Linked DNA regions of Homo sapiens: regions 2, 3 and 4 are each reported to be linked to region 1. The links are microRNA targets in miRTarBase. Many come from high-throughput screens and were not tested one by one. Region 1 holds a microRNA gene; each other region holds the end of a gene's coding sequence.
What was found. The annotated mature microRNA hsa-miR-4746-3p reads AGCGGUGCUCCUGCGGGCCGA and lies in region 1 at 3,340-3,360, shown strand. An mRNA with a match to its seed (bases 2 to 7 or 8) in the 3' UTR can be bound and repressed. Matches are read on the target gene's strand: a 7mer-m8 pairs with bases 2 to 8, a 7mer-A1 pairs with bases 2 to 7 and ends in A, and an 8mer does both.

Region 1 (7,340 bases):
GCAGCAGGCTGCGTGGGAGGAGTGTGCCCGGGTGGTGGGGGGCAGGCAGGGTCAACCTGAGAGCAGGTGAGCAGGTCACCTCTAGAAGAGGCACAACGCCCCAGCCTCTGCCTGTCCCCACTGTCAGGTGGAGGGTCCCGCCCTGGGGTTGTTGCAGGCCCCATGAGGCAGCAGGGTGGGGTCTTCCCCCAGGGAGCCCAGAGGGCCCAGCCAGCTCAAGACCCTCCCTCTCTTGCCCTGCAGAGGTCCAAGCCCCGTGTGGAGCCGCTTCCGGAGCTGGGGGTGGTGTGGGGGTGGACACCGGCAAGGCCACCCTGACCGCGAGCCCACTGGGTGCATCCTGAGAGCAGGGGTGACGTATGTAGAATGCTTAGGGTGTCCTCCCCACAGAGCAGATACTTGAACCGACTCAATTCCTGTGTAAAGAGCACTTTGTCCTGCTTCACGGACCTCCCCAAAGTGTGCAGAGTTCTATATAGGATGCTGGATTAGTTCCTTTGATATTTGTAAAAATTCCCCCAAGAGCCGCATATGAATCTGCCCTTTAATAAAGCATTATTGAGATTGCTGGCCTATTGGGGAAGCCTGCGGGCACAGGAGCAGGCGTGGAATCCAATACTTGTAAATGAATTGAAGCGTCAGGACCACCCGCCTGGCCACGTGCGCGGGCCCCTGGACCTAACGAGGCAGTGTATAAACTTATTCTCTAGCCCTGAGCTGCTCTGTCTGTCTTTTCCGAAAACATTGTGTTTCTCTGAGAGTGCACCTTGCCCATGGCCCGGCCCCATGTGGTGCCTGGTGTCTGGGGCCAGCCTTGTGCCCTGCAACAGCACCGTCCCATCTGTTTGTCACTAAGTCACCCTCATACCAGGCTGACCTGGGTCAAGGTGCGGGTTTTTCCGCACGTGCTTCTGTCCGGCGATCCCTCCTGCCCTGGGTTGGGGGGTTAGGAGAGGGTGTTCCCAGAGACCTGCTAGGGTCACCTCCCTGAACCCGGAGCTGCTGGGAGCCGAGTTTGGCTTCGAGTCTGAGGCTTTGTGAGAGCCCACCCCAGGTCAGGTGCATCTTTTGCGAGTGCTGGAGCTAGAAGGTGACCTCCTCCCCGCCCCAGGTTGAGTGGGCTTTATCCACACTGTCCGAGGGAGGACAGGCGACAGCCGCTGTGGTACTGAGCAGCTCAGAGCACACGCAGCCACGGGGAGGGTCACGCTCGCCAGTCCTGCTCTTCCCAGCCACACCCCACCTGAAGTCCTAAGCTTCCCTTCAGGGAACCCTATGTGGGAAAAGTGTCAGCTACCTCCATCCACCCAGTCAGGGACGGCAGGGCGCCCGGGCCAGGCCTTCCTGCTGGGAAGCAGGATTCAGCTGTGCCTGAAGCAGAGGCTGCCCCTGTGCCACACCTTTGATGAGCTTTACAGGGGCTCCCGACAACCCGGAATCAGGTCCTGGGGCCTGCAGGACGCAGGACTGGAGTGACAGCCTCCATTCTCAACAGGCCGGGTGCCCACACCAGCTGGGGCAGTGCCGGGGGCGAGGGAGGGACCAATGCAAGGTCAGGGGCACGAGCATAGGCCCCGGGCACCTCCCCCAGGTGCAGACCTGCATCCCCAAGTCAGCAGTGGGGCCGGGGCACACATGCCTTCCACACTGCAGGGCAGAGTCCCTGTGTCTCCTGGGGCTGCTGTACCACAAACCTGGTGGCTTAAAGCAAGTCACCATCTCACAGCTTGGGGGTCAGAGTGCACACATGCCCCGCCAGGCTAACATCAAGCTGTGGGCAGGACCAGGCCCTCCTGGAGAGTTTCCCAGTGCTCGGAGGCGCTGCATCCCTCAGCTCGGGGTCCCTTCCTCCACCTTCACAGCCATGCGCAGCCTCTTCCAGTCTCTCTCTGATTCACCCTCCTGCCACCTCTTGTGAGGACACTGGGTCCCGGACCACCCAGGATCATCTCCCAGCTCAAGACCTTTCATCATACCCAAGCCCCTCTTGCCAGGTGAAGTTGCGCATCTGCAGGTTCCAGGAATAGGATGTGGCCGTCTCAGGACACCCTGTCCCTCTGGCCACAGGGAAGCCAGGCCTGTGACAGCACTCGCCTCCCCTGCAGGGACTGGGCCTTTGTGGGCACAGCACAGCCTCCCCTAGCGCACGGGACTTCCTCCCCAGGTGGGTGGCTCATCGGGCACTTGTGGCCAGGTGCTGGCCTGAGAACAGGTATCCACATGGTCCCACCTTGACAGGGAGCCACACCCAGCCCCCAAGCCATCCGCTCTTCAGCAGGTGGGCCTGCCCTGTGTCCCACGGTTTCAACGGAGAACCAAGAAACTATATTCAAACAACCTGTTTATTTGGGCTTATGATTTACTAACTGCAGGTCTATGTGCAGGAAGGCCAGCATCCCCTCCTGCCGTTGTCACCCACATCCACAGAGCAGCCCTAGTGCCAGGTGCAGCCACTGCCACCCACGGCACACGGGAACAGGACCCATGCTGCAGGCCTGCTCTCCTGCCCAGGGAGATGCCACGTGTGTCTGTCCGGCAGCTTCATGACACAGTTACCAAGCAGCTAGGGAGGGCTTAGATTTGTTGGTGTCCCCAGGCCTCTCCCTCGGGGGCTTGGGCGCATCCCCACAGCCCCCAAGGGATGGGGGCTCTGCCACGGGGCCCAATTCCACAGCTCCACGGCTGGCGCCCCTCCCGTGCCCATGGGGCAGAGCCAAGTATTTCCAGAGGTGGCTTGGAGGCCCTGGGGTGGCGGGGAGAGGAACAGGGAGAGCATGAGACAGACCCACAGGGCTGAGGCCAACCCTGCTTTTATTTCACAAGAGCTTCTCGATGGCTGACAGGAGCTCGGGTTTCAGGATGGAGTCCGGCTCGGCCCCCGCGGCCTTGATGTCCTCCAGCACAGCCATGTCCCACGAGAAGGTCAGGAGGGCAGAGGGCACCTGCGGTAGGGGTAGGCCGTCACTCTGAGACCGAGAGTCGGCCCTTGCCGCGGCAGGGAACTCAGCGGGCAACCTGGGCGCGGGGATGCCCCGGCCTGGAAGCCATCTCAGCTGGTGGAGGCTGTGGCTCGCACCCAGGCCTCCTGCCCTCTCCCTCCGGGACTCCAGGACCTAAGCCTAAACCTACTGCACTAGCTAACGCACGTCACCGCTCCCATTTGATGGGGAAACTGAGGCGTGGAGTAGTTATGAACTTGCTCGAGGCCCTGCTGCCAGTAAGTGGGAAAGCAGGATTCAAACCCAGGGACCTGCCCAGGCCCCCTGCTCTGAGAACAAGGAGGCTCCCTCCTGGGGGTGTCTGTGCCGGTCCCAGGAGAACCTGCAGAGGCATCGGGTCAGCGGTGCTCCTGCGGGCCGACACTCACCAGCCCGCACTCGTTCAAGGCCAGGTTCTCGTCCTCGGACAGCTTCTGCCCTCCCGAGGCCAGCAGCTCAAAAGGCAGCCAGTCGCTCTGCAGGGCCTCCCGGACGAACCCGTACACCGCCCCCAGCCGCTCCCGAGCGTAGAAAGTGCCTGGGGAGTGGGGGAGTCAGAGCGGGTGGGGCCCAGGGCCCCCTACCAACCCGAGCCGCCCTCCACGGGCATCGTTGGTGCCCACCCTGCAGGAGGCAGCCATCGGGGAGGCGCACGCGCAGCAGCGTGTAGTTGTACTTGCGCAGCCCCCGCTGCTCCTCCTTCTCCCGCATGGCCTTGGTCCGCAGCACGCTCAGCCGCTCCACCGCCTCGGACCTGCACACGCGGGCCAGGTCACGAGGGCTGGCCGGGGTTCTTCCACCCCGCCCCGCCCCACTCTGCTCCGCGGACGTCAGGCCCACCTGAGCCTCTGCTCCCGCTTGATCTCCTCTGCTGTGAGGTTGAAGAAGTCCCCAGGCAGTTCGAACTGCGAGGCCAGGGGCGAGGGCTGGAAGACGCGGCGCTGCCTGTCCAGCTTGGCGCGCACGGGCTCCGCAGCCAGCAGCTGTTCCTTGTGCCTCTCCAGGCTCTGGGGCTGGGCCAAGGTGGTCTCGCTCAGCACGTAGAACTCCTCGGGGTCCTCTACAGCGTGGCAGGACATGGGTGTCACTGTGCAATGGAGAGACCCCCAAGCCGGGCCCTCCTGCCCCGAGGCCCCTCGTCCCCATTCCCTACTCAGCCAGGCCCTGTCCACTTACCCTGATCCTGGGCGGGAAGCAACACCTTCTGGAACCCAATGGCCTCAAAAAACTCGTGGGTCCCTTCCAGGCAGTTAATGCGCTCCTGGGGGTGGAGATGGGCGTCACTGGGGGCCCCTGGCTTCCTCCATGGCCTGGCCACACCCCACCCAGTCCAGGGGCCCGGCTCTCGCTATTGGGAGCAGCTGTCGACCCCTGGATGGGGCCCAGCCCTGGGGGTGCCTCAGTGCTGGATGCAAACCTGCTTTTCTACGGTGGGGGCTGTGGAGTCTCCAACAGCTCTGCACAGAGGAAAGAGTCACAACCAGGCACGAAGAGTGAGGCTGAGGAGCCAGACACTGCTGGGGCCTGATGCGAGGCTAACACCGCCCAGGACCCCAGTCCCTGCCCTTTCCCCCAGAAGAACCAGACATCTGGTTTGCATGAGAAACCTCCCCAGAGTCGACATGTTCCCAAACAAGCCCAGCTGAAGAGGAGGAAAAGGATGCAGGTGAGGAGAGGCAGAATTTGTTGATTTGGGGTGACCGGTGCATAAAAGTCTTGCTCTCCATCTTGTCCTGCTACCTTCTACTGGCCGAACCCTTCACTGCTTGTGGCTCAACTCTCGCTAGCTCCTCCAGGGAGCCCACCGCCTGGTGTGGGCCACCACCGGCTCCTGCAGGCCAGCTGCCCCCACCCCCAGCCTGGGCCCCGGGGGCCAGAAGGCACGCCCACCTGAAACACCTTGTTCTGCAGCTTGATCTTCCGGTACTTCTCCTCCTCGGGGTGCAGGTGGATGTTGTCCAGGTACCTGGGGTAGGTGGAGAAGGTGAGTGGGGCACAGCCCAGGCTGCCCACCCGGCCCCTCTGTGCCTCCTGCTCCAGGTAACAGCAGCTCAGCCACACTTGGCCTCTAGTCAGAGGGAAGAAGCGGCCCAGTGACGCGAGGGCAGCAGACCATCTCCGGGTGGAAGGCACACCTCGGACACCCCATGGAGCCCACCCCTGGTGCCAGCAGGAGCCCCACGGAACCCCTCACCGTCCCACCAGCCCTGGAAGGGCACAATTAACCACAGCGGTGGGGAAGCCACAGTGCCGGAAGAGTGGAGAGCCAGAGCTGAAGGGCCGCAGTGCCAGCAGGGGGCTCCTGCGGGGTGCTCCCTCGGCGTTGGCGGGCAGCGTGGACCTCCAGGCCTGCCCCCGATCCTGAGACCCGGGGAGTGGGGTGGGACCCTGCCTCCTCCACATGTTCCCCAAGGAAGCCAGGGTGGGAAACCCCTGATTCCTTCAACACCTTCATTTTGCACACGGGTAAACTGAGGCCCAAGGAGGCCCAGCCCTTTGCCTGAGGCCTCTGGGTGGAGCTGCCTCACTCTCGGCCTATGCTCCTTCCCAACCCACCTCAGCAGGTAATGAGGGGGCCAGAGGGGGTGACAGCCCCAGTGGGAGGGGTGCTGGGATGAGCTGGAGGGGCCAGGCAGGGCAAAGGGGCCACACGCTCACTTGGCAATGGTGTCCACACCCAGCTTCACCCGGTCCTGGTCTTTGTTGAACGTGTAGATCTTCATGATGGAGGCGGCCACTGGGTCGGTGGAGAAGTGCTGGGAGGAGGGAAGCAGGGAAAGCCACTCACTGAGAGCCCGGGCCGCACGGCCCTCCGCTGCCCAGGTAACAGGGGCAGGAAAAGGAAGGCAGAACAGCGGCTTGGAGCGGCCCCAGCTGTGCGCTCATCACAGAAAGGAAAAGAGAGACCCTCCAAGACCGCAGCCCTGCCCACGCCCCAGGGCAGAGGCGACGCAGCCAAGACCCAGCAGAACTCAAGTCTCCCCTTCCGCCTTCTCAAGGCTAGATCCATGGGACTTGGAAGCCAGTGTGACGCGACAGAACTGTGCCTCACACTCTGGCTTTAGAACTCGACCTCAGTGCTGAGATCCATCAAGGCCACCGCCACTTACAGAACCTCCCGCCACCATGGACGCCCCATCCCTCCTGCTCTCGCAGCCCCATGATGGACGTTCTGGAACCACTCCCGGGCCTCATGTTTACAAAGAGACCGAGAGGCCCATCGTCCAGGGTCACAGGGATGGCAGGTGGCAGAGAGGACACAAATGAGTCTGCAACCCTCAATGTCTGAAACTCAATAGCTGGAAGACGGATACCCCCAGCCCCTGCCCCTCCCCGAGGTCCCACCTATCCACCTATGTTACCGGGGGAGGGGAGAAGTCATAGCTGGAACTCTGGGGGTTTCCCAGAACCAGCCCTGCTGACTGCGAACAGCGTCCCAGCATGGAGAGGCTGAGAACAGTACGTACCCTAAGACCTGGAAAAGATTGGGGCACAAATCCACGCTCGGCACAGCCATCACACACGGCCACACCCAGAGAGCCACCCATGGCCTGGGAAGCAGGGCTGCCACCCGCACCTCCCTGGGCTGCCCAGACGAGGGCGGGTGAACAGAAGGGCAGCCCAGGGCCATGTGTCAGGATTCGGGCCACCTGCCCAGGCAGCCCAGAGCTCCACCCACCACCCCCCACCCTCAACTGCACAGCAGGGTCCCTCAGCAGCCCCCTGCGTCACACGGACCAATGACCTACACACTGAGCCGGGGCTCATGCCAACTGAAAATTGGGACCCGGCCCAGTCTGCCGGTTTAGTTGCTGAGATGATGTGGGGAGCGGGACAGAGCACGTGGATGCAGAGAGGCAGAGCTGCCAGATGGGCATGTCCCCAAGACAACAGCTTCCTTGGGATCAGAGCGCCCGGGACAGCACACCAGCCAAGGGAAGCGTGTCAGCTCCAAAAGCGGGCCTCGGGCGTTTTGGGCGACTGGCTGCCAGGCTTAGGTCAGGAGCTGGGTACATGCACAGACAAGGGACGAAGGAACAGCAGCCAGGAAGGGGTCCAAATCCATACAGGAATGTACTTTGTGAGAAAGGTGGGATTTCACAGCTGTAAGCAAAAGACAGGTGCTCTCGACAGGTGGGGCTGAGAAGAAAGCTGAGCCAAGATCTAAAAAAAAAATTACATCAGCTCCATCCCACCATGTTACATAATAACATGCTCCAGCTGGATCAAAGCTTCAACCATGGAAACAAGCAAGCAGTCAAGGAGAAGCCAGAAGAAAAGCTCTGGAGGCCGGGCACGGTGGCTCATGCCTGGAATCCCAGCACTTTGGGAGGCCGAGGCGGTCGGATCACGAGATTAGGA
Region 2 (7,275 bases), not on the chromosome of region 1:
GCCCCAGCTTGGACTGGATGTACTTATAATTATCCATTTGGTCTAACAGTAAGAACCTGACCTGTCATTGTAAATGGCTACAGGGATGAAGGTGGCTGGAGAAGAGGACCAGCTGAGGAATCTTCAAGCTGGAGAGACTCAAGTCGCCGGGACGATAGGGATAGGGATGACCGTCGCCGTGAGAGGGATGACCGGCGTGATCTAAGAGAAAGACGAGATCTAAGAGACGACAGGGACCGAAGAGGACCTCCACTCAGATCAGAACGTGAAGAAGGTATAGAGGTTACATACAACTGAAGTATTGGAGAACTGTCGTTTCTGGGGGGGGGGGGATTTGGGTTATTTAATTATATCATAAATTTGTATGAAGGCCAACAATAAGAGAGTTGATATTCTATTTAGAATTCATGATTTTCATACAGTTACTCAATGGTCATGTTGTAAAGTGCACTTATCTCTAAATTCAAAGTACAGTAGTAGACTAAATTGGATAGCAGGCAATATATATAAAGTTTACTTAATAAAAATGAAAAAAATTGTTATTTAAAAGCAGCTTCCTGGCAGATTAAGCACAAAGTAGAAACATTTTCTCTGAAATTGTAACAGAAGTTTATTCTGTTTTAAAATATATGTATTTTTCATTTTTAAAATCCTCATTTTTCTCTTGGTTTTTAAAAATTAATTTTCCATATGTCTTGACATCCTGTTATGAGAGAATTTTTCTCTCATAGCCATAACTTTAAAAACTCCTGTATTTTGTATGGTTAATTTGCTGTTAAAATTCTTCAAGAGCCAAAAATCCTTTCAGTTATAAAATTTTCATTCAGCCAGATTTTTGCCACCTTGTCTTACGGGTTTATACTAACTGTAGTCCTTCCCAGGCTAGTGGTTTCTGCCTGTTTTCAGATTTTGAGTTTTATCTGTACATTTGTATGTTAAAGATTGTCAGAAATTGTATGAGCTTTCATTATGATTTCTGTATTTAACAATACAGAATTTAACAGAATTTCTGTATTTAACAATGATTTCTGTATTTAACAATCTTTAGTACAGGAATTTTGAGTAATTTGAGCCAATAGAATATAGTACTAACTTAATTTTTTTTTTTTAATTAAACTTTTTAGTAAGTTCTTGGAGACGTGCTGATGACAGGAAAGATGACCGGGTGGAAGAGCGGGACCCTCCTCGTCGAGTTCCTCCCCCAGCTCTTTCAAGAGACCGAGAAAGAGACCGAGACCGAGAAAGAGAAGGTGAAAAAGAGAAGGCCTCATGGAGAGCTGAGAAAGATAGGGAATCTCTCCGTCGTACTAAAAATGAGACTGATGAAGATGGATGGACCACAGTACGACGTTAAGTCTCAAGATAATGGATTTAAACTGGTGTCTTAAATAGGTTTGATCACATTCAAGGATTATTATACTTGTGCTTCAACCAATCTAAATTGGATTCTTTAATGTTGTTTCACCATAACACAAAAAGCATGAACTTGTATTAATCCTATATAATAGATTGATCATGCACCATATCCACAGGAGGTTGGAAAAACCATGCCATTTTCTGGAATTTAAGGGTGTTGCATTATTTCATCAATCATTTGTTGACAAAAAAGAAAAACTAAAAAATAAATTTAAAATGTGACCCTTCAGGTATTGAGTAACACCTTTATCTTGGTATAGAACTGATACTTTTTTTTTGATTTTGAAATATCTGATAATAATTTGGAATGAAGTAAGGTTCTGTTAAAATATATTTGAAGACCCTTTAAAGCAGTGAATCTGAAACAATTTTCACACCCTTAAGTGGTTGATACGTACCTATTTTAGGTATTTTGAGGTATTTACCATAAACTAAATTTAGAAATTTTTTAGATTCACTTGAAGTAAACATTACAAACATTGGATACGGTGGGGTTTTCTTTAGATTTTACTTGAGAGAAGGTGAGTACAAAGCAATTTGCAGTTGTTGTAATGACAAGATTACTGCGCAAGTGTGAATCCAAACAGTATAGCTTTTAAATTTTAAAGCATTTGGTAAATTATCGCTGAGTTTTTTTCTGTTGCCAATAGCAAACTGCTTTTCCATTAATGGAGAATTCATGCCTTTCAAGCATTTTAAATATGACAATATTTATAAATGTATGGTTTGGAGGAATCGTTTAAATTCTCTTTCCTAATTTTCTTTCTTTTGAAGATAGATTCTTTCAACAAGTAATTTGTAGTAATGACTGTGTTGACTTCAATTTTGGAGCGCAGTAGCTATGTTAAAGATGAACTATTTGGTCTCATTGAAGCCAACACAGAACTTGCTGCTGTGTTTTTTCTTCAGTGATAAATAAAATACTTACAGAATTTGTTTTAGTGTTGATTTGTGGTTATAGTATTTTGTTTATAATGGTAAGTTTGCATATTCAGTTGAGTTTTTTTTACTTGAATTTTTATCAGTGCCATTAAATGTCTGTGTTTAGTATCAATGAAAATGAACCTAAATATAACAAAGAAAGCATATGTGGCTAGGATGTCCCCCTAACATGTCTTCCTTTGTTAATGCAGGAATTCCTTAGTTTCCTTGTAACGCTGTCCTCTGAGTTTGTGTGTGCATGTGCGTGTTTGAAGTACCACCTTGGGTTTTCACCTGAAATTAGAAAAATCGTAGTTAATTTGAGAAAATGTTACAAATTCATCATGGCTGTAGGCACTTATTTCTGTTATTGAGTAGTGGTGAGAATTCCTATTGGTACAGCTGTAGGGCCAGAAGAGGGAGTATTGATGCTTTTTAACTTAACCAGATGCAGCTATTTTTGTTTGATGTTACCAATGATAGAAATCATTTTAAACACCTTAGTATCTGGTATTTCAAATACGTAGAAGTCTTTAAAGGTCTTTCGTGGGGAGAAGGACTTTTCTTTCATAACAAGAGAATTTCAGATCAGTGATTACAAGTGGGGCAGTAACTTGCTAAGAGTTTGCTTCCTGGAGAGTAGATCTGTATGTGTGACATCACAGGTAAGCCCCAAGAATTTATTTAATCAGATTTGTTCAGACGAGTTACTGCTGCCTACGTTAGAGTTAGATTTCAAGGCGAGTCAGCAAACCCATCCTTTCTGCTCAGTCTCCCGTACTGTTCTCCCAAGTTCTTTGTTCTGGGAGTCAGAACCCAAGTGCAAGAGGAGGGCAGAAGAGTCTGATGCTGTTACTTTGCGATCCTGCTCTTGGTTTCCACTGTCCAGGCCATACAACTCTGTCTACTCCCATTAGTATTTACCAACAGGTGTTAAAGGAAAGCTGAACAAGCAGCCTACTCACCGATCTGCTAGGTGGTCTTCCATGTTCATGGTGGCTTCTGCAGTTTCATTGAGAGTAACATTGCTGTTAATACAGATAGATCCAGTAGTAGAGACATCATCGGTCCAAAAGACTTTGCATCTCATTAGTTGTCCATAGTGACTACCAGGAGGTGGCTGGCATCTATAACGTGTGGGACGTTTTTATGTAAAGAACTGCCTGTGTTTTTTTTTTTTTTTAACCAAAGACACTGACCATAGATTGACTTATACTTTTATAAGTCTAATTGAAATACTTGGGGTACTATGAAAGGACTGTTCCTTGAGTGGCTACGATTAGAAAATCAGGACTAACAAACTTTTCTTTGTCTGGAAGCATATATATTTGTGATATAATTTTAATATGTATAATTTTGGTTTAATAAATCAAATCTATGACAAAAGTTGTTCTCATCAAAGCTAATAATTCTGCAACTTCCAAAAAGGACTTTGTAGGAAAATTAAAATACAAAGAAAAATAAAAGCCACTAGAAATTTTAAGTCTGTACAGAAAAGAACAGGTTAAGACAATCTGTACCTCTACAGTTGGAGAAGCCCTTTTGACTCTTCCCTGTATTGTTTTGCTACTAGGCAAGTATGCAGCATGTTCTTATGAAGATAATTTTGTCATACTTTGTATATTTCTTAAACTTTGAAAAATTGGGTTTCTCTAAATGTAATTTTGCAAAATGTTTAAAGTTCCACATTGAGTTCCAAGGATTTTTAAATGAATGTGTTTACATATACTTTTCATAAGAGAACCCTAGAAAATTAACTATAGTAATACTCTGCGTTTTAACTCCCAGTATTCATTGTCAGCTGGAAAACCTAGGCAAATTTGGCACAGGGGCTGAACATGGGGTACTTTTTTTCTTTTTTGGAGACAGAGTCGCTCTGTTGCTCAGGCTGGAGTGCAGTGGCGTGATCTGGGCTCACTGCAACCTCCGCCTCCTGGTTTCAAGCAATTCTCCTGCCTCAGCCTCCTGAGGAGCTGGGATTACAGGCGCCCACCACACCACCCGGCTAATTTTTGTATTTTTAGTAGAGACGGGGCTTCGCCATGTTGGCCAGGCTGGTCTCCTGACCTTGTGATCCACCCCCGCCTCGCCTCCCAAAGTGCTGGGATTACAGGCATGAGCCACCACACCCGGCCTGAAAATGGGGTACTTTAAAAATAGATGAATAGTGGCTGCCTGAGTAGTGGAGAGGGTCTTCTGGATTCCTTTTCCAATACTCTCCTGCCCTCAAGAAGCTCCAGCTCAATATGTTCTTAGTTCTGGTAAAATAGCAATGTCAGAATATCAAATTAACATTAGGCACATCTCATCACAGTGACTCCCATATATTGAGGCTATGCCAAAGCCCCATGCTCAAGACCTTTGGAAACCGTCTGTAATTTGACTCTGAAAATACAAAGTAGCTAAATTGATCTTGCCACCTGGCTAGCCCTTTTGGCCTAGAGAATGCGCTGATCTGTTCATAGTGGTCCTTTTGAAAAGGCAGAACACGAGCAGTGAGAGAGGTAAGAGGATTCATGTTGACCTTAGAAACTTCACCCAGAAGGTGAAGCTCATTTAAACTGGTAGATTTTCTATAGCAAAAGAAAGGAGAACAAGTAATTACATGGTTTCATTAAGCTACTTAATTTAGGCCCAGTCAGATCTGCAGTTCTCTCTGGTCTGGGGTTAAGACTAGCAGCGTTGGATTATTTGTCTTTCCTGGCTAAGAAACATTGTGCTTTCCTCCTGCCCCCCAAGTTCTTGAAATGCACCTTTTCTTTCACCAAAAAGACAGCTATCGGGTATTTACCCCATCCTCTAACACACCTTCAAATGAAGGTTCCTGATTGAGTCAATTTGCTGTGGATGAAGTTAGCTGTTTAATGCGAAAGCAGTCTAACTTCTAGTAGCCTAGCTAAATCCTACTGGGAGCCTTATACACGTAGACTAAACTCTTGCTGGTATCTTCAGATAGTAATGCATTTGTGTATTTCAGATGAGTTCATCTTAATTCACTTCCATTTTTTGCCTTCTATTGCCTTGCTTGGCAGGTAGCTGCATTCCATAGTGTGGCATTCAGTATGGTGGATTTAAAAGTGAGGGTGGGAGGGTAAAGTAGGGGTTAGGAACTTTTGCCCAAGGATCAGGTTTAGTCTTGCTTATGGGTAAACTGGTGGGGTTCCGGAAACCGACATGGGTCTTCCAGTAGGAGTGGGAACACATGAAGGACCCCCAACAATTCCTTTAATTAGTGCTTATTCTAGTTTGAGCACTGCCTGTATTAAAGTCAGACGCAGCCCACGGTGGAACCTTCTTGAATACGAGTTAATACACGAATAGCTCAGAGCTAGAGATCCATCTTCTATTTGTTTGACAGGCAACAGCTGGAATGGGCTTTCCTCCACTAGGAACCCTGAAATTGAGTAATCTAGGGTGAATTAATACTGCTGTCTTCCCTTCCTCCCTTTGATCTTAATATCATAAACGTTTTTAAAGAACTGGAAGAGGGTGAGTGTGTAGAGAAAATGCCAAGTAGGAAAGTTACAGGTGAGATTAATGAATTCATACTGTTACTGTATAAATACACAATTTTTTTAAACAGCACCATTTCCAAGTTATACACAATATGATTATGACTTGGCACAACTTTTAAAGGTGGAAAAGGCTAGTTGCTAGTTCAGTAATAAAATACCTGGTACATAGAACGATAAGGAGCTGTATTCTACCTGCTACACATTGTGCATTTTACACCTCCAGCTAGGACAGAAACAAGCCACAAGCGGGGAATACCCGCCCAAATTAATACTGGAAAGTTTACAAAACCTTCACTTCTCATAAGGGTGATGCTACCAGCGGCTTGCTTCACCTGGAATTAGAGTAACTGATTTTTAAAGACAACTGAGAATATTAACTCGCTTCAAACAATAAAATAGTCATTTTGCCGACATTTCATAAAATCGCCAGTTTTAAGCTCAGTTCAGAGGCTTTTAAAAAAATATTCTAGACCTAGTAAAGTGCCTCCATTCATAAAATGAAACATCCAAGATTGAGACAATTTCATACTGATGCGCATCTAAAATAGGTCGACGTATACAGTAAATAAACAGCGCCTCTAAGTTGCCATATTTCAGTTAGTGGAATACACACCCAGCCTTCGCCGTTCTGGATGTGCAAACTAGAAACTGAAGACAAATGGGGATTTCAGCGTCTAGTCCCAATCGTTCAGCACGGAAGTACTCCACACGGTCGGCTGCTTTTCAAAAACCACCAGGACGACGTCCCATGTCGAGCCGACCGCTGAGCCGCACGCCTCCCCACGGCGGGGGCGAGATGGTGCGCAGACCTAGCGGTGCGAGGGGCGGCGGCGACCCTGGGCGGCCGGGAGCCCGGGCCTTCAGCGCAGCTTCTTGCCAGGCGGGCCGTCCCTGGCGCTGCGGGGCGGCGGGCGGGCGGGCGGCGGCGGCACTTTGGAGAGCGGGCAGTACTTGATGGTGTGCGCGTTGTCGCCGCTGGCGCCGCACAGGGGACACGTGTAGCGGCGCAGCACGGGACACAGCACTCGCCCGTCGGGGCCCTTGAGGATATGGGTGGTGTAGAGCGCCATCGCCTCCTTGTTGTTCCGGCAGAACACGCACACCTGCAGCTCGGGCTTCAGCAGCCGGGCGGCCGCCGCCCCGGAGGCCGCGTGCAGCCGGGGCTCGGCCGCCCACGCCGGGGCCCGCTCCTCGCGCGGCGTCGCCTCGCTGGTGGTGGTGGCGGCGGCGGCGGCGGCGGGCGCGCAGCCCAGCAGCACGGCGGCGGCACGACCCGCGAACGGGCTCAGCTCGGCGAAGCGCTCCTCCAGCAGCCCGGCCTCGGCGGGGCCCGCGCACAGCTCCAGCGCGCGCAATTCCAGCGCGCTCCCCAGGTAGCGGCCCCGGGACCCCGGCTCGTCGCTGTCGTCGTCGTCGTCCTCGT
Region 3 (7,340 bases), not on the chromosome of region 1:
AGATAGTGACCCCATGTTGCCCATTCCCTAGATAATGGGGACTTCAAGACAAAGCTCTAGAAAAATGAAAGGAAAAAGCAAAAAGTATCTAAGTCCTTAGCTGCTCCAAAAAAAAGGCCTGCAGCTGCAGGCTGTTGACCACTAATCCCTGGAAATGCATCAAGTAGACTGAAGCTAGGTCTGAGAAGAAATCAAGGCAGGTGTATACGGCCTACTGCATCTCTTTTCCCAAATTACGTTCAAGAAATACAGAAGTTCTCAGATATTGCTCTTTCCTCATTTTCCTCCTACCTCTTAGCTGTTCTTCCTATGGCCCTTGCACACTGAGTTGCCTGTTGCTCTGTCCAAGTCCTGCTAATTCCATGTTCTTTTTTTTTTTGAGACGGAGTCTCACTTCGTCACCAGGCTGGAGTGCAGTGGCACGATCCTGGCTCACTGCAACCTCTGCCTCCTGGATTCAAGTGATTCTTCTGGCTCAGCCTCCTGAGTAGCTGGGATTACAGGCGTGCGCCAACACGCCCAGCTAATTTTGTATATTTAGTAGAGACGGGGTTTCACCGTGTTAGCCAGGCTGATCTCGAACTCCCAACCTCAGGTGATCTGCCCGCCTCGGTCTCCCAAAGTGCTGGGATTACAGGTATGAGCCACCATGCCCAGCCCTAATTCCACTTTCTATTAATATTTCTGAAGTCTGTGTATTTTCACCTTTACTTAATGCAATGCTTTAAAATGGTCGAGGTATATTCCCTACCTAGAAGAACTCATACTTATACACAGTGGGACACATACACGGACTTACATACCACATAAAATTCATTGACAGAACACAGGAATAAACCAATGGTTGATTTATAAAATGTAATATTTTGTACCAAAGGTTTTCAAACTTCTTGGTCTTGGGATTCCTTTACACGCTTATTATATTGATCTTATCAGAAATTAAAACAATTTTTTTTGGAAAATTTAAGTCATTTAGAAAGGATAAACTTACTACATGTTAACATTTTTATGGAAAATAACTATATTTTCTAAATAAAAAATAATTTAGTGAAAAGAATGGCATTGTTTTACATTTTAAAAATGTCAGATCTACTTTTGCTTATACAGAATCTTTAGTCACAATCAGTCCATTCCACCTTTGAACTGAAAATGGTATTAATAGCGTGCAAAAATGTAAGGGGGCCTCTCCCTCTCCCTCTCCCTCTCCGTCTCCCTCTCCCTCTCCCTCTCCCTCTCCCTCTCACTCTCCCCACGGTCTCCCTCTCATGCGGAGCCGAAGCTGGACTGTACTGCTGCCATCTCGGCTCACTGCAACCTCCCTGCCTGATTCTCCTGCCTCAGCCTGCCGAGTGCCTGCGATTGCAGGCACGCGCCGCCACACCTGACTGGTCTTGGTGGAGACGGGGTTTCGCTGTGTTGGCCGGGCCGGTCTCCAGCCCCTGACCGCGAGTGATCCGCCAGCCTTGGCCTCCCGAGGTGCCAGGATTGCAGACGGAGTCTCGTTCACTCAGTGCTCAATGGTGCCCAGACTGGAGTGCAGTGGCGTGATCTCGGCTCGCTACGGCCTACACCTCCCAGCCGCCTGCCTTGGCCTCCCACGGTGCCGAGATTGCAGCCTCTGCCCGGCCGCCACCCCGTCTGGGAAGTGAGGAGCGTCTCTGCCTGGCTGCCCATCGTCTGGGATGTGAGGAGCCTCTCTGCCTGGCTGCCCAGTCTGGAAAGTGAGGAGCGTCTGCGCCCGGCCGCCATCCCATCTAGGAAGTGAGGAGCGCCTCTTCCCAGCCGCCATCACATCTAGGAAGTGAGGAGCGTCTCTGCCCGGCCGCCCATCGTCTGAGATGTGGGGAGCGCCTCTGCCCCGCCGCCCCATCTGGGATGTGAGGAGTGCCTCTGCCCGGCCGAGACCCCGTCTGGGAGGTGAGGAGCGTCTCTGCCCGGCCGCCCCGTGTGAGAAGTGAGGAGACCCTCTGCCTGGCAACCACCCCGTCTGAGAAGTGAGGAGCCCCTCCGCCCGGCAGCTGCCCCGTCTGAGAAGTGAGGAGCCTCTCCGCCCGGCAGCCACCCCATCTGGGAAGTGAGGAGCGTCTCTGCCCGGCAGCCACCCCGTCCGGGAGGGAGGTGGGGGGGTCAGCCCCTGCCCGGCCAGCCGCCCCATCCGGGAGGGAGGTCGGGGGTCAGCCCCCCGCCCGGCCAGCCGCCCCGTCCGGGAGGTGAGGGGCGCCTCTGCCCGGCCACCCCTACTGGGAAGTGAGGAGCCCCTCAGCCTGGCCAGCTGCCCTGTCCGGGAGGGAGGTGGGGGGGTCAGCCCTCCGCCCGGCCAGCCGCCCCGTCTGGGAGGTGAGGGGCGCCTCTGCCCGGCCGCCCCTACTGGGAAGTGAGGAGCCCCTCTGCCCGGCCAGCCGCCCCGTCCGGGAGGGAGGTGGGGGGGTCAGCCCCCTGCCCAGCCAGCCGCCCTGTCCAGGAGGGAGGTGGGGGGGTCAGCCCTCCGCCCGGCCAGCTGCCCCGTCTGGGAGGTGAGGGGCGCCTCTGCCCGGCCGCCCCTACTGGGAAGTGAGGAGCCCCTTTGCCCGGCCAGCCGCCCAGTCTGGGAGGGAGGTGGGGGGGTCAGCCCCCTGCCCGGCCAGCTGCCCCGTCCGGGAGGTGAGGGGCACCTCTGCCCGGCCGCCCCTACTGGGAAGTGAGGAGCCCCTCTGCCCGGCCAGCTGCCCCGTCTGGGAGGGAGGTGGGGGGGGGTCAGCCCCCCCGCCCGGCCAGCTGCCCCGTCCGGGAGGTGAGGGGCGCCTCTGCCCGGCCGCCCCTACTGGGAAGTGAGGAGCCCCTCTGCCCAGCCACCACCCCGTCTGGGAGGTGTGCCCAACAGCTCATTGAGAACGGGCCATGATGACAATGGCGGTTTTGTGGAATAGAAAAGGGGGAAAGGTGGGGAAAAGATTGAGAAATCGGATGGTTGCTGTGTCTGTGTAGAAAGAAGTAGACATGGGAGACTTTTCATTTTGTTCTGCACTAAGAAAAATTCTTCTGCCTTGGGATCCTGTTGATCTGTGACCTTACCCCCAACCCTGTGCTCTCTGAAACATGTGCTGTGTCCACTCAGGGTTAAATGGATTAAGGGCGGTGCAAGATGTGCTTTGTTAAACAGATGCTTGAAGGCAGCATGCTCGTTAAGAGTCATCACCAATCCCTAATCTCAAGTAATCAGGGACACAAACACTGCGGAAGGCTGCAGGGTCCTCTGCCTAGGAAAACCAGAGACCTTTGTTCACTTGTTTATCTGCTGACCTTCCCTCCACTATTGTCCCATGACCCTGCCAAATCCCCCTCTGTGAGAAACAACCAAGAATTATCAATAAAAAAATAAATTAAAAAAAAAAAAAAAAAAAAAAAAAGAAAATGGTATTAATACCATCAGCTGACATTAATTAAGCACTTAGTTTAGTTTATTTATCTATCTCATTTAATCCTTATAACAGCCCAATAAGCTAGACATCATTATTCCCATTATGAAGATGAGGCAGAAGACCTAAGGAAGGATAAATAATTCGCCAAATGTCACTTAAGCACCTGGTTGGACTGCAATGATTCTAATCTAGATGCTCTTACCCACCATGCTGTTAAACTTGATTGCACTGCATCATACACTTGATAATTCAACAGTTAATGATAATAAAGTCAAATTTACATCTACAAATCATGCAAGCTTAAATTGATACTACAAGTTTATTTCAACTTAATAGCTGGGAAATACTTAGGGGGTGTTATGGGCTGAGTTGTAGTCCCCCCAAAATTCACATGAAGAAATCCTAATCCCAGCACTTCAGAATGTGACTGTATTTGGAGATAGGTTTTGAAAGAGATAATTAAGGAAAAATGAGGTCCTCAGTGTGGGCCCTAATCCAGTATGACTGGTGTCCTCATAAGAAGAAGAAATTTGGGCACAGACAAGTACAGAGGGAAGGCCATTTAAAGACACAGGGAGAAGATGGCCATCTACAAATCAAAGAGAAAGGCCTCAAAGGAAACCAACCCTGCTAACACCTTGATCTTGGACTTTTAGCCTCCAGAACTGTGGGAAAACAAATTTCTTGTTGAAGCCACCCAAGCTGTAGAACTTTGTTATGGCAGCCTAACAAACTAGTACAGTGAGGGAATTTGACAAAATTTCATTGGTTACTGGTACACTGACCTAACATGCTGTGTGGACCAACACAAATGAAACCATAAGACAATACTTCCCAAATATTTTAATTTTGAAATAGATATACTTAATGGCTGATGACCCAGTATCTTTGGTGTCCTCTAACCACATTACCATTCTATAATTTCAAATGAAATCTATACTTTAAAAACAATTAATGTCAAATTTTGTCATAATATCTGACTTTCAGGCCAACTTTTAATGTTAGTACAATTTAAAATAAAAAGTCATTAACATTTTAATGTAATACTGAATAATTCTCTGTGGAATTTATCTTTTACATTTTTTTCCTTTTAAGCAAAAAGAGATTTACAGTTTATAATGGTAAAGACTCTACTACTTCAGAATCAAAGCCAAATCAATATTACTTAATAATTCAGGGAAAATTTAGATAAAATCACTAGACAACGGTAAACTGATATTCTTATCTACTCATAAAATTATTTTTGAATTGCAAACGAACTGCTATGCGTGGCTAATTTAGGAAGAAAAATTTTTTTTTTTTTTTTGAGACTGAGTCTCGCTCTGTCACCAGGCTGGAATGCAGTGGCGTGATCTTGGCTCAATGCAACCTCCACCTCCCAGGTTCAAGCGATTCTCTGGCCTCAGCCTCTTGACTAGCTGGGACTACAGGTGTGTGCCACCACATCCAGCTAATTTTTGTATTTTTAGTAGAGACGGGGTTTCACCATGTTGGCCAGGATGGTCTCAACCTCTTGACCTCGTGATCCACCTGCCTCGGTCTCCCAAAGTGGTGGGATTACAGGCGTGAGCCACTGTGCCCAGCCAGAAAAGCATTTTTAATAGAATTTTGATAGCTCTTAACTGAGATCCTAAATCAAGGATTTAGAAATGAGGTATCATAAAGAATAGTAAGATTTTAAAGCTCTCAAAATTACATATGATACAAATAAAGATTGTAACAGTATTTAATCATTGTTTCAAACTTTATTACTTAATGAAACAGTTTCTATATACTGCTTCCAATTACTTTAATCCTTTTTTCTCATTAAATTTTTTTTGTTGTTCTTCAGTTGAGCTGAGATACTTTTAATTACTTTTTATTAACTGCTTCCAGAAACCGTAACAGGTGCAGGAATAGATTGATGATATCCAAGTAGAGGCTGATGGCAGCTAATACGTACTCTTCAGGTGACAGTTTATGCATCAGTGAGTGTGTGTCATAGATGATGAATCCACAGAAAAGAAGGGCTCCTGCAGCGGCTAAGACCAACTCCATTATCTCACTATAAAAAAAAAACTATAGGGAAGAGATTAAAGAAATATGTTTATATTTGAGAACAGTATTAACAGGACTTAACTTACTTCCTCTAATGATTTACTGCTACATTATACATTTGACAATGGTGTACAACTTTGAATACAAATGTTAAAAGCAGAAAAAGGCAAGGCAAGTCCAAACTTGCCTCTGTTGGATGGAAGGATGAATGAGTGGTTATATTCCATTAAACTAAATTACCCACTTTGAAAAACAGCATTCCACATATAAATTATTTAAAAATATATTTCGTTTTTCACAATTAAATGTGCCACTGGAGCTTGGCAGTTGTAAGCAAGGGCCTCTTTCTATGTAATTTAATTCATTTATTCATTCATCTTTTTTTCAGTCAATAATAAGGACCAACACAAGACCCTGATTTTCTAAAGGGATAATTCTATAATCATTCTATATACAAATGTTCTGGATAATTATAACTAAGTGTCCTATCATAAGAGTATCTCTTATAGCTTTTTGAGGTTATTTATATTGACACAGCCAGAATTATATTTCAAATTAACCATTATAACATAACTTACCTTCAAGAATCCTGACAGGCACAATATCCACAAAAGAGCAAACAGCCTATAAAAATACAATTTTAGTAATTTGCAATATTGTTCCTTACAAAAAAACTTTGTAAACCCATTCAACACTTTCTGAAAAAAACATCCATCTGGATTTTTTGCTGAAGAATAACTAAAATGTAAGAATTTGTAAACATACAATGAATATAATGCCCATCTTGGATCTTTTTTTTAAAGAAATTGAAAGAACAGCTATTTATTCAACATTTGTCTTTATGGTATACAAACCTAGTTAACAGTATAATTTGTGAAGTTTTGGAACATAAAATACAGATAAAAGCAGAAATATCATTACAAGTATTTTAATTCAGAGATCTATAAAAACTTTTAGAAAATATATAAACAAATGAACTAGGATTGCACTTTTAAACCAAGTAATAACAAGTTATTCTGTGAACATGTCTATCGAAGTTCACAATGTACTTTCCATTTTATTCTTATGTATTATGGAACTTAATTGATGGACACATCTGACACTGCTATAATTTTATGAGTTACAATTCAATTGTTATATATAGAGAGTATAAATTATATAAGAAAGGACATCTAAGAAGTCAGTCTTTTGTTATAAAATATGGGACTTATCAGCTGCTTCAGGTCACAGGGAATTACAGAGGCCACATTTATCCTCCTTCCTTAAATAAAACCAGACAAAATATATGAAACAACAGTTCTTGGACACTGGACAGCAAACAGCACAGGACAGGGATTCCTGAGATAAAGGATACAAAGAAAGTGAAGTCTATATTTGCCCCAGCTACAGAGGGTTTCCAGGCCAGCGTGTAGGGATAAGAACCCATACAGTCACTTGCGGTCTCCTTGAGTTGAGCAGACAAGAATTCAGAGGTCAGGGAAGCCAAGGTAGCTAGAATTTGCAGGGCAGAATATCAGAAAGAAGAGAACTATCCACCAAAAGTGAGCACTCTGGTGTATGCACAGGATTCCCCTAGAGTCTGTAGCTACATTCTGATTAATACATGCATGTTAAGGAGGTGACCAAGGCTGGAGAAAGAACCACAATAGAGAAGCAGGCAGAACAATCCTCAGAGTTCACACAGGACTGGGAATAGTTTGCATTCACACAAGCTGGAGTAGAAAGACCTCGTAAGACATGCACTGAGTAGTATGCTGAAGGGTACTGTCTCAGCAGTACCCTTAGGGCCAAATGAGCCCCTAAGCTAAAAGCTGTTCTGGACCTCCTAACAGAGCCTCAAAAGGTTTACTTTCCAAGGAACTTAACTGCATCCTAGGAGAACAATGCCAAATATATTTAAAGTTA
Region 4 (7,340 bases), not on the chromosome of region 1:
CTGCACTTCACCCCCAAATTCCCAGCAAGGTCTAAGGCTTCGCCAGGAACCCTTGTCTTCTTGCCAAAGGCATGTCAGGGCCATCCTGCAATACTCATGAGGTTGCCTGTCCCTTCATGCCCCTCACCCCACCCCAGGATTAATCATCAAAGAAGGACTGTCTACATGTCCTCCTCCCTGTGCTTAGGAAGAGAGACAAATAAGAGAATGAGAAGGCTGGGAAGGCCCTTAGCGGTCACATCAAGCAACTGTCCTTGCCAAGGTTTTATGGAGGAGGAAACTGAGGCCGCCTTGTGCTGAGTGGCTTACCCGTGAGCAGCCGGCACTCCATAGGGCCACAGCAGAGACTGTTTCTTCGTGGCACGGAAGGACATCTCTGCTTGCTGGTCCCACGGGCTAGGACAGCCCCTATTGACGTTGCACTATAGCTGCATGTGACCTTTAACCAATGGTAAAATAGCCGGATTTGTTTCCACCTCCTTCTGAGGTTCTGACCTGTAGTAGAGAAAAGAAATAGACAAGCGTGGGTGGGCCACATCCTGATCAGCTGCCAAAATGCGTGTGGCCCTTGTTACCCCTGTCCTGCCCACTTGGTGGACCATTGCAGGAAGTCTGAGCCCTCTGCCTTCCTTTCTCCTTGCAGGGCGAAGATGGCTTACCAGTCCAAGGCTGCTGGAACAAGGTAAGGCTTCCCATTGGTGTGCACTGGGGCTCCGTTCTCAGCAGTGCCATAAAGCTTCCACAATTTCCATTCTGCCTTGCTACAGATGAGGCAGCAAGACATAGGTCAAATAGTCACTGTCTCAAAGGCAGGGTGCCCATTAAACATCCCATACACTGCATGCTGTTAACAAACATTTTAAAATGCTTCTTAGAACATCAGTAAACCCTAGGCGGAATGTCCATGCAGCCACACAGGTGACATCTTTATGCTTTGTGTGTTCAATGTACATAGTGTCTTTCCCCCAAGGAACTTCCCCAAGGAGTTCCAGATCACACTCATAGAGTTCCTCTAAGGTCGTTTATGCCACGTGATGACATGTCTTAGACGTAGGACATCTCAGTTGCTTTCACTCTGAACTCACATGCTACTGTGCCTCCCCTAGGGGCTGTGCTCCTCACCACTCTACCACTCCCCTTGCATTTAAGCTGGCAGAGCTTCATGCCACCACACATGTGACCTGCAGCCAAATCTCTCCTGGGCTCCCAGAGTTCCTACCAACAATGAGTTTTCATTGATTCACACTGGCCTTGGCATTTGCCATTGTTAGAGCAGTCTGACATCATAGGACTGTGCCCTTGCATGTGATCGCCCCATTCAACCATGGCTCCCCAGAGCACAGGGCTGCCCAGGCAGACAGAGGCCATCTGCTTGCTAACTAATCCAGAAGACCCGCCTTGGTCCCCAGCAATGGTGGCAGCCACTATGCTGCCCCATACCGTCTCCCTCCACCTTGCCTGTCACTCCAAGTCTTCTCACCAACCCCCCACCACCATTGTCTCAAGGTTCATCCTCATAAAGGGACCGGAGACTCCAACATGTTCAAGAATCTGTGCTCAACGAATCCAGTCCTGTTCCAGTGGCAGCAGAGTCACACTTACAATGAGATGAACAAGCTCCCCTGTACTAAGATGCCAGAATCTCACTAGTGCACTGGGTTGGGTAAAAGTGGTGAAACCACCAAGACCCCAGGCCAACGCTGACCACCTACCTGCCTGGATACCTAAAGCACCCCCTAACCCAAGAAGGAAAAGCTCAACACTCAAGAGAGATGCCTCCCCAGAATCCATCCCTGGAGGCTGGCCTCGTCCTCCTGCCAAGCTCCACTTAGACCTAGTTAAAGCGCCACAAAAGCAGGTCAGAGGTGTCATAAGACCTCTGAACCCTTGACCCCTAAAAAAATTTCCTCTTTAAAGTTGCTGCCAATGGTTAGGAGACAGAAATGGTTGTGCTTAGCAGGGGAAGAACAGCCACTACCAAGAGCTGCAATGTCTTGGAGAAGCAACCAGAGAGCTTCAAGACTACTCATTCACACCTTAAGTCCAATCTGGGACAATGCAGTGGTTACAACAATCAGGCCTCCAAAGGCAGCAGAGAAAGAGAGTGCCCTCTAGTGACCACAAAGGGGATTCACAGAGAGGTGAACTTGGTTTCCTCCCTTCAGGGAGCTAAGGTCGCCACCAGTTTCTTTCACCTAGGGGCTCAGGGTTCCCACAGTTCTCCTGTCCAGAACTCCCATCCAACCCAGGACAAGATTTACCTCCCTTCCTACAAAGGAAATAAACCTCTGCAGACCCACTGAAACTAACAGAACATTGTTTTGTTTTTGTTTTGCAGTGATGCCTCTAACCTTGGATTGGCCTGTGTGTGTGTTTGTACATAGAATATTTATTTTTATACAGTTTTCACTTTTTGAAAATGCCAGAAGTATGATGCATCTTACAGATTATTAAAAAAGAAAGAAAAACCTGCATATTTTGTACAGAAAATATCAACCTCTTCCCTTTTGTTTACAAGATGTTTTGTATAAGCCTATGTCTCTAATACATTTTTTGTTTGGTCGTAATGTCTGCATGATATTTGTGCACATTTATTAAGTATCGAAGCTTAATAAATTATTGTGTCCTGGTGCCAAAGGGGGCCAGCCAGAACTGAGGTGCTGGCTAGCTCATGTGTGAATTCACATAAATGTAGAGGTCCATGATATTTGCTAAGCTAGGTGTGTCTAAGAGTATTTTAAACCCTTATGGATTTTCATTATTAAAGGAAATGAAACATGGCAATTCATGATCCTGATTAATCATTATATTAAATACATTCTCTCCTGTGAAAGCAGGAATTCCCAGAAGTAGGGGTCCTCAGAAGTGTGGAGTAAGGTTTTGAAATGTGAGGTTCAACAAAGGGAGGGAAGGGAACTTTATCGAGCAATGTATGTTGTTACAGATCCCAAGTTTATCACAGTGCTTGCTGTGTGAGCATTTAGGTTCAGTTGTGCTAAGGGCACCCAGGGTTTCAAAGGAGCCATTTGCTCTTGCTGTTGGGTTATGGTAGGTTTTTGCTTGTTTGTTTTGCTTTGTTTTGTTTTGAGCTACAGTCCCTAGTACCAGCTATTGCTAATCACAGCTGTTGACTTGATATGAGTTTGTGGGTTCACTCACAACTAGCAGTTGAAGGAGCTTTGCCTCATCTGCTGTTCCACTCCAGCAAAGAGCATTCAGAAACATGCCTAGATCTGGGCTTGGGCTGGGCCAATCTGAAGTTGTTTTTATTTTTTTAAGAAATAATGTTGTATTGCTTTCCATATTTAGTGCATTGCTTAGAAAAGGTCTCAGGAAACCGGTTTTAATGACCAGTTAAGTCTTACCTGTGGTGTAGCATACAGGTTTATCGTTAGCTGTTTGACAACATAAATTCATGCTTCTAAAAGCTTGAAAACAACAAATTACTCCAGTACTTTACATACATCCCCATCTGGTTTACATTTTGCATTTTCTTTACACATCCTTTCTTCCTAGACAACGCAAAGGGAAATTTAACTTCAGACTCTGTCCACATGCTGTCACACAAAACTCTAAATTAGTGGGCTTCACAGTCATTAGACCCCTGCCATGTGTGGGGATGAGGTCACACTCACAAGCGCTCATGGTAATGAAATCACACGCAGCTCAGACCCAAAACGTCTATACCAACATTCTTACTCTAAATGTCACTAGCTTAGCTTAGAACTTGGACAACTTCCTCTTCTAAGTCTTGGGTTCCTCATTTGAAAAGTGAAGCAAGTCTGGGCAACATAATGAGACGCTCATCTCTACAAAAACATTTTTCAAAATTTAGCTGAGTGTGGTGACACTCGCCTGTAGTCCCAGCTACTCCGGAGGCTGAGGTGGGAAGATTGCTTGAGCCCAGGAGTTTCAGGCTGCAGTGAGCTATGATCGCACCGCTGCACTCCAGCCTGGGCAACAGAGTGAGACCCTGCCTTAAAAGAAAAAAAAGGAAAAAAAAAAAAAAAAGGAAGGAAAGAAAAAAGAAAAGTGAAGCCATGCAGTAGTGAACAAGAGTTGATCTCTGTGGACACAAAGAGGGTTCATCTGAACCCAGGGATGTTTCTTGCCCTGGGCCGGATTCTCATGGCCCTGTAGCCCAGGGACAACTTCTCCAGCAGCCACGGAGTACTTTTAGAGGCCACAAAAATATCTTAATTTTTCACCTTTTTAAATTTAGAAAAAAAAAATGAATATATAACAATGAATCCAGCCAGGATTGTTTTTGTCTTTCTACCAGCACAATTGTAAAATATAATTTTTTGTATTTTTTTAATGGAGGAAGGCAAAACTGCCCAGGGCCCCCAAAAGTCATAACGCAGCCCAGCCCACATCCTCTGCCCCTTAGAATTCACAGTCACCCTAGCTGCGGGTGTCCCCACCTCCAGGCCACACTCCTCCCCTCCCAGGCGAGGGCCCAGGCAATCAGGGTGTGACCCCGTTCTGACCCCCTCCCCTTCAGGCTCTGGCCAGGGCAATCACAGCTCACTGATGATCTCAGGATAGAGTAGAACATTCACTGGAACCCAGAAAGGGGAGAGTCAGTGTTAGCTGAATATCCTGGGTAAATGGGCAAAGAAACCTCTTTTGTTCCAGTCCTGGGGTTATTCATTTACTTATGACACTTTACCTACTGCCACAAAGGATTCAAAGTCACAAGAATCTATGTAATAAAATAGAAATGTGTGTAAAGAGAAGTTTAAAAGTCAGAGTCAAGGAAAACAAGTAGAGAGGAGACAGCTGTGGCTGGGAAGCCCAGGGGATGGGGAAGGTCCTTGCCGTAACTGAGGCAGGGTCACACACATCACTTCAGGCCACCTAGTGGTCACAGAAAAAAAAAAGGCTGGGCCTGGTTTCGGAGCCCACACTGCCCTGCCCAGTGGGTTGCAGCCCCCCGAGGTTTAGCCCCGTGTGTGTAAACACATTGTCTCCCCACACGGTTGTTGCTGCCATAGTACTCAGCCAGGACCCCACCCTATCACTGGACTGCACCCCGGGCTCCTGACTTCAGGCCCCTGCCCCCAAGCCTCTCCACTTGAATCTTGGCTGTGTGTCAAATGCAGTACAGGGAGATGAGAAGTAAAAAGACACGTGGTCAAAGAGTTTGCACAGTAGCTGTGAGTCCATACTAACGCCCAGCAGACCAGGACAACCAGGCGAGAAGAAACAATCCAGTGATGGAACAGGAGAAGCAGGCACATTGCAGGAGGGACCAGGGAAAGGCCAGCCCTATGGACAGGGGCCACAGAGGGCTTGCAGAGGAGAAAGACATGCTGTCTGTTTTGGGGGACTTGCGGCACCTCCTGGTGAGAACTGCCTGCCCAGGGAGCCAGAGGTGCACCCAGCCCTGCCCACTGAGCATGTTGGTGAAAGTTCTTTGTAAATTGTAAGGCACTGGGTCTTAAGGCCGTTTGTCTCCTGCAGTTCCTCTCTCATTCCAGTGCCTGTGGCTGCGTGCTCTGGCACAGCAGGACACATGCCTAGCGTTGTCCACCTGGATACCTGCAAAGAATGAGCCAGTACCCCATGGGTGACAGTGTGACCGGGTCATCTGGGCCCGAATGGTGCCTCTCCCCAAGGCTGGGGAGTTGTGGTTGTGGTCATGTGAGCCAAGGGAAGCCACATTGCTTCCCTTGCTGAGGGAAGAGGAGGCTCCTTCCACACATGCCCACCCCGCCCCATCTCCGCCCCACCCAGTGCTGGCCTCCCTTCCCCGGCCCTGCCTTCGCCTGGCAGAATGGCATAGGATGGAGCTGGGGAGGGTTGTCGTTAACCCATAAGTGGAGGAGGGCACTGGCCAGCAAGTCGAGAGACTCAGCTTCTAGTTCTTTCTCTACCATTACCTCACTGTGTGGCTTGGGCACCTTACTCCAGGTCTTAGTTTCCCCAAGCGTCAAGTGAAGAAGCTGGACATGGGTGACCTCCATAAAACTTTCCAGCTCCGACACCCTGAGGCCCTCTGGCCCCACAGGCAGGTCACCTCCTGGGAGGATTGTGGAGGCGGGAGTACTCCATGTCCCCCCCTCCACCTAGAGTTATTTGGCTGTGACAGTATTATGCATGGCATTGGTTTTGCAAAACTGTGTGTGGCATGTGTGTGCTTTGTAACCCCAAATAACAAAACTTGGAGTAGGCCTGTGCCACCCAGGAGTAGGGTGAGCGGGGTCAGCTTGCCTTAGGGCAAGAACAGCTGTAGGGGTTGTTTCTCACATTGGTGTCGACACAGAGGATGTATCAGAGAGAAAGCAATAAAGCACTGGCCACCTGACACACGCGGGAATCCCCAAGCCCCAACACACATTCAGGGACACCGCACTGGCATGGGGAGGCCCACCTCCCTCCCTCCTCTCAGGCCCACTGTGTCTCTCCCATTCACCACCCCACACACTCCCCCAGCGTGTCTCTCCCCTTGCCCTGGACTTGGACACATTTTCAGCCAGCATGAGACATCAAGCACCCAAGACTCCACATCATTGCAAAAGAAAAGAGTAGGCTCCCTGTGAGTGTTCAGAAAAAAGGACACCACATCAAGATGTGGAGCAGAGAAGGAAAGCAAGGGCAGGAGCAGCCGTTCACCTCTCAAAGGAGCAGAACTCCCAAGGGGTCGCTGAAGCAGGATGCCCCTCACTGTGGTGAAGGAAACAGGAGGATGGTGCAGGGAAGGGAGCCATGTCTTAGCCACTCAGGCAGAACTGGGTGCAATCCACATGCAAAGTGACCTCTGGCTGCTAGAAAAGTTCATCTCTGAGAAACAGCCAAGCACCTGTGGAAGGCGACTCAGAGGGAGGTAGAGGGCCACGGCCCCTGTACCCCCAGGGCCCTCCCCAGCAGGCCCACCTCCTTTCCAGGCCTGCCACTCACCCTGCGCACACACTTTGCTGCCCCTCCACACGCTTGCCCTAGCCGGGCCCTTACCTGGAGATGCCATTGCTTCTTATCTGCCTCCTTTCAAGGCCCAGCTCAGATCCCATGGCCCTGGAGAGACGGTTCTGGGCTCCTCAGTTGGTGGAGTCTCTCCTCCCTGCAACTGCCTGGAACTCAGTGTTCTTTTCTTCCTCCACTTTATGTGAGAGTGTGCAAAGGGGCTCTTCCATTTTTGATAGTGAACTCTTAAAGGGCAGGGACTTTCTTACTCCCAGGCTCAGGAGGGACCTAGCTCAGTGTCTCCCCTACAATCCAGCCATCGACGGGGGATCATACATATCTACCACCTGCTGAGTTATCAGCCAGCTTTGTTAAGCACCTGCTGTGTGCAGACACTGTGCTTCCTGCCAGGCTGGGAAGGAAAGGGAAGAGGC

Region 2: miRTarBase lists NANOS1 as a target of hsa-miR-4746-3p. Seed matches in the 3' UTR shown: 7mer-m8 at 6,665-6,671.
Region 3: the mRNA of TMBIM4 is a reported target of hsa-miR-4746-3p. The part of its 3' UTR that is shown has no 7-base or 8-base seed match.
Region 4: miRTarBase lists COL13A1 as a target of hsa-miR-4746-3p. The part of its 3' UTR that is shown has no 7-base or 8-base seed match.

The regions. Positions count from the first base shown.
Region 1 is chr19:4,442,682-4,450,021 of GRCh38, forward strand. It overlaps MIR4746 (microRNA 4746), which reads left to right and starts at 3,297; the gene lies at 3,297-3,367. UBXN6 (UBX domain protein 6) reads right to left here. Exons shown (of 11, transcript NM_025241.3): 5 at 5,637-5,734; 6 at 4,869-4,944; 7 at 4,155-4,239; 8 at 3,819-4,038; 9 at 3,602-3,732; 10 at 3,368-3,516; 11 at 2,325-2,942. The coding sequence ends at 2,817. CHAF1A (chromatin assembly factor 1 subunit A) reads left to right here. Exons shown (of 15, transcript NM_005483.3): 15 at 244-716. The coding sequence ends at 344. RefSeq lists silencers at 1,291-1,585, 1,695-1,863.
Region 2 is chr10:119,030,118-119,037,392 of GRCh38, reverse strand. It overlaps NANOS1 (nanos C2HC-type zinc finger 1), which reads right to left. Exons shown (of 1, transcript NM_199461.4): 1 at 3,663-7,275. The coding sequence ends at 6,713. It overlaps EIF3A (eukaryotic translation initiation factor 3 subunit A), which reads left to right. Exons shown (of 22, transcript NM_003750.4): 21 at 84-274; 22 at 1,125-3,723. The coding sequence ends at 1,354. Among named protein-coding and RNA genes, the nearest start is that of NANOS1, 4.0 kb to the right of the region's middle. RefSeq lists a silencer at 6,608-6,907.
Region 3 is chr12:66,132,711-66,140,050 of GRCh38, forward strand. TMBIM4 (transmembrane BAX inhibitor motif containing 4) reads right to left here. Exons shown (of 7, transcript NM_016056.4): 6 at 6,014-6,059; 7 at 3,136-5,456. The coding sequence ends at 5,250. LLPH-DT (LLPH divergent transcript) reads left to right here. Exons shown (of 2, transcript NR_125724.1): 2 at 1,342-1,739. Among named protein-coding and RNA genes, the nearest start is that of LLPH-DT, 5.6 kb to the left of the region's middle.
Region 4 is chr10:69,956,361-69,963,700 of GRCh38, forward strand. It overlaps COL13A1 (collagen type XIII alpha 1 chain), which reads left to right. Exons shown (of 41, transcript NM_001368882.1): 40 at 644-682; 41 at 2,339-2,784. The coding sequence ends at 2,341. LOC107984242 (a long non-coding RNA gene) reads right to left here. Exons shown (of 4, transcript XR_007062181.1): 2 at 6,958-7,063; 3 at 310-495. Among named protein-coding and RNA genes, the nearest start is that of LINC02636, 49 kb to the right of the region's middle. RefSeq lists a silencer at 459-528 and an enhancer at 4,978-5,478.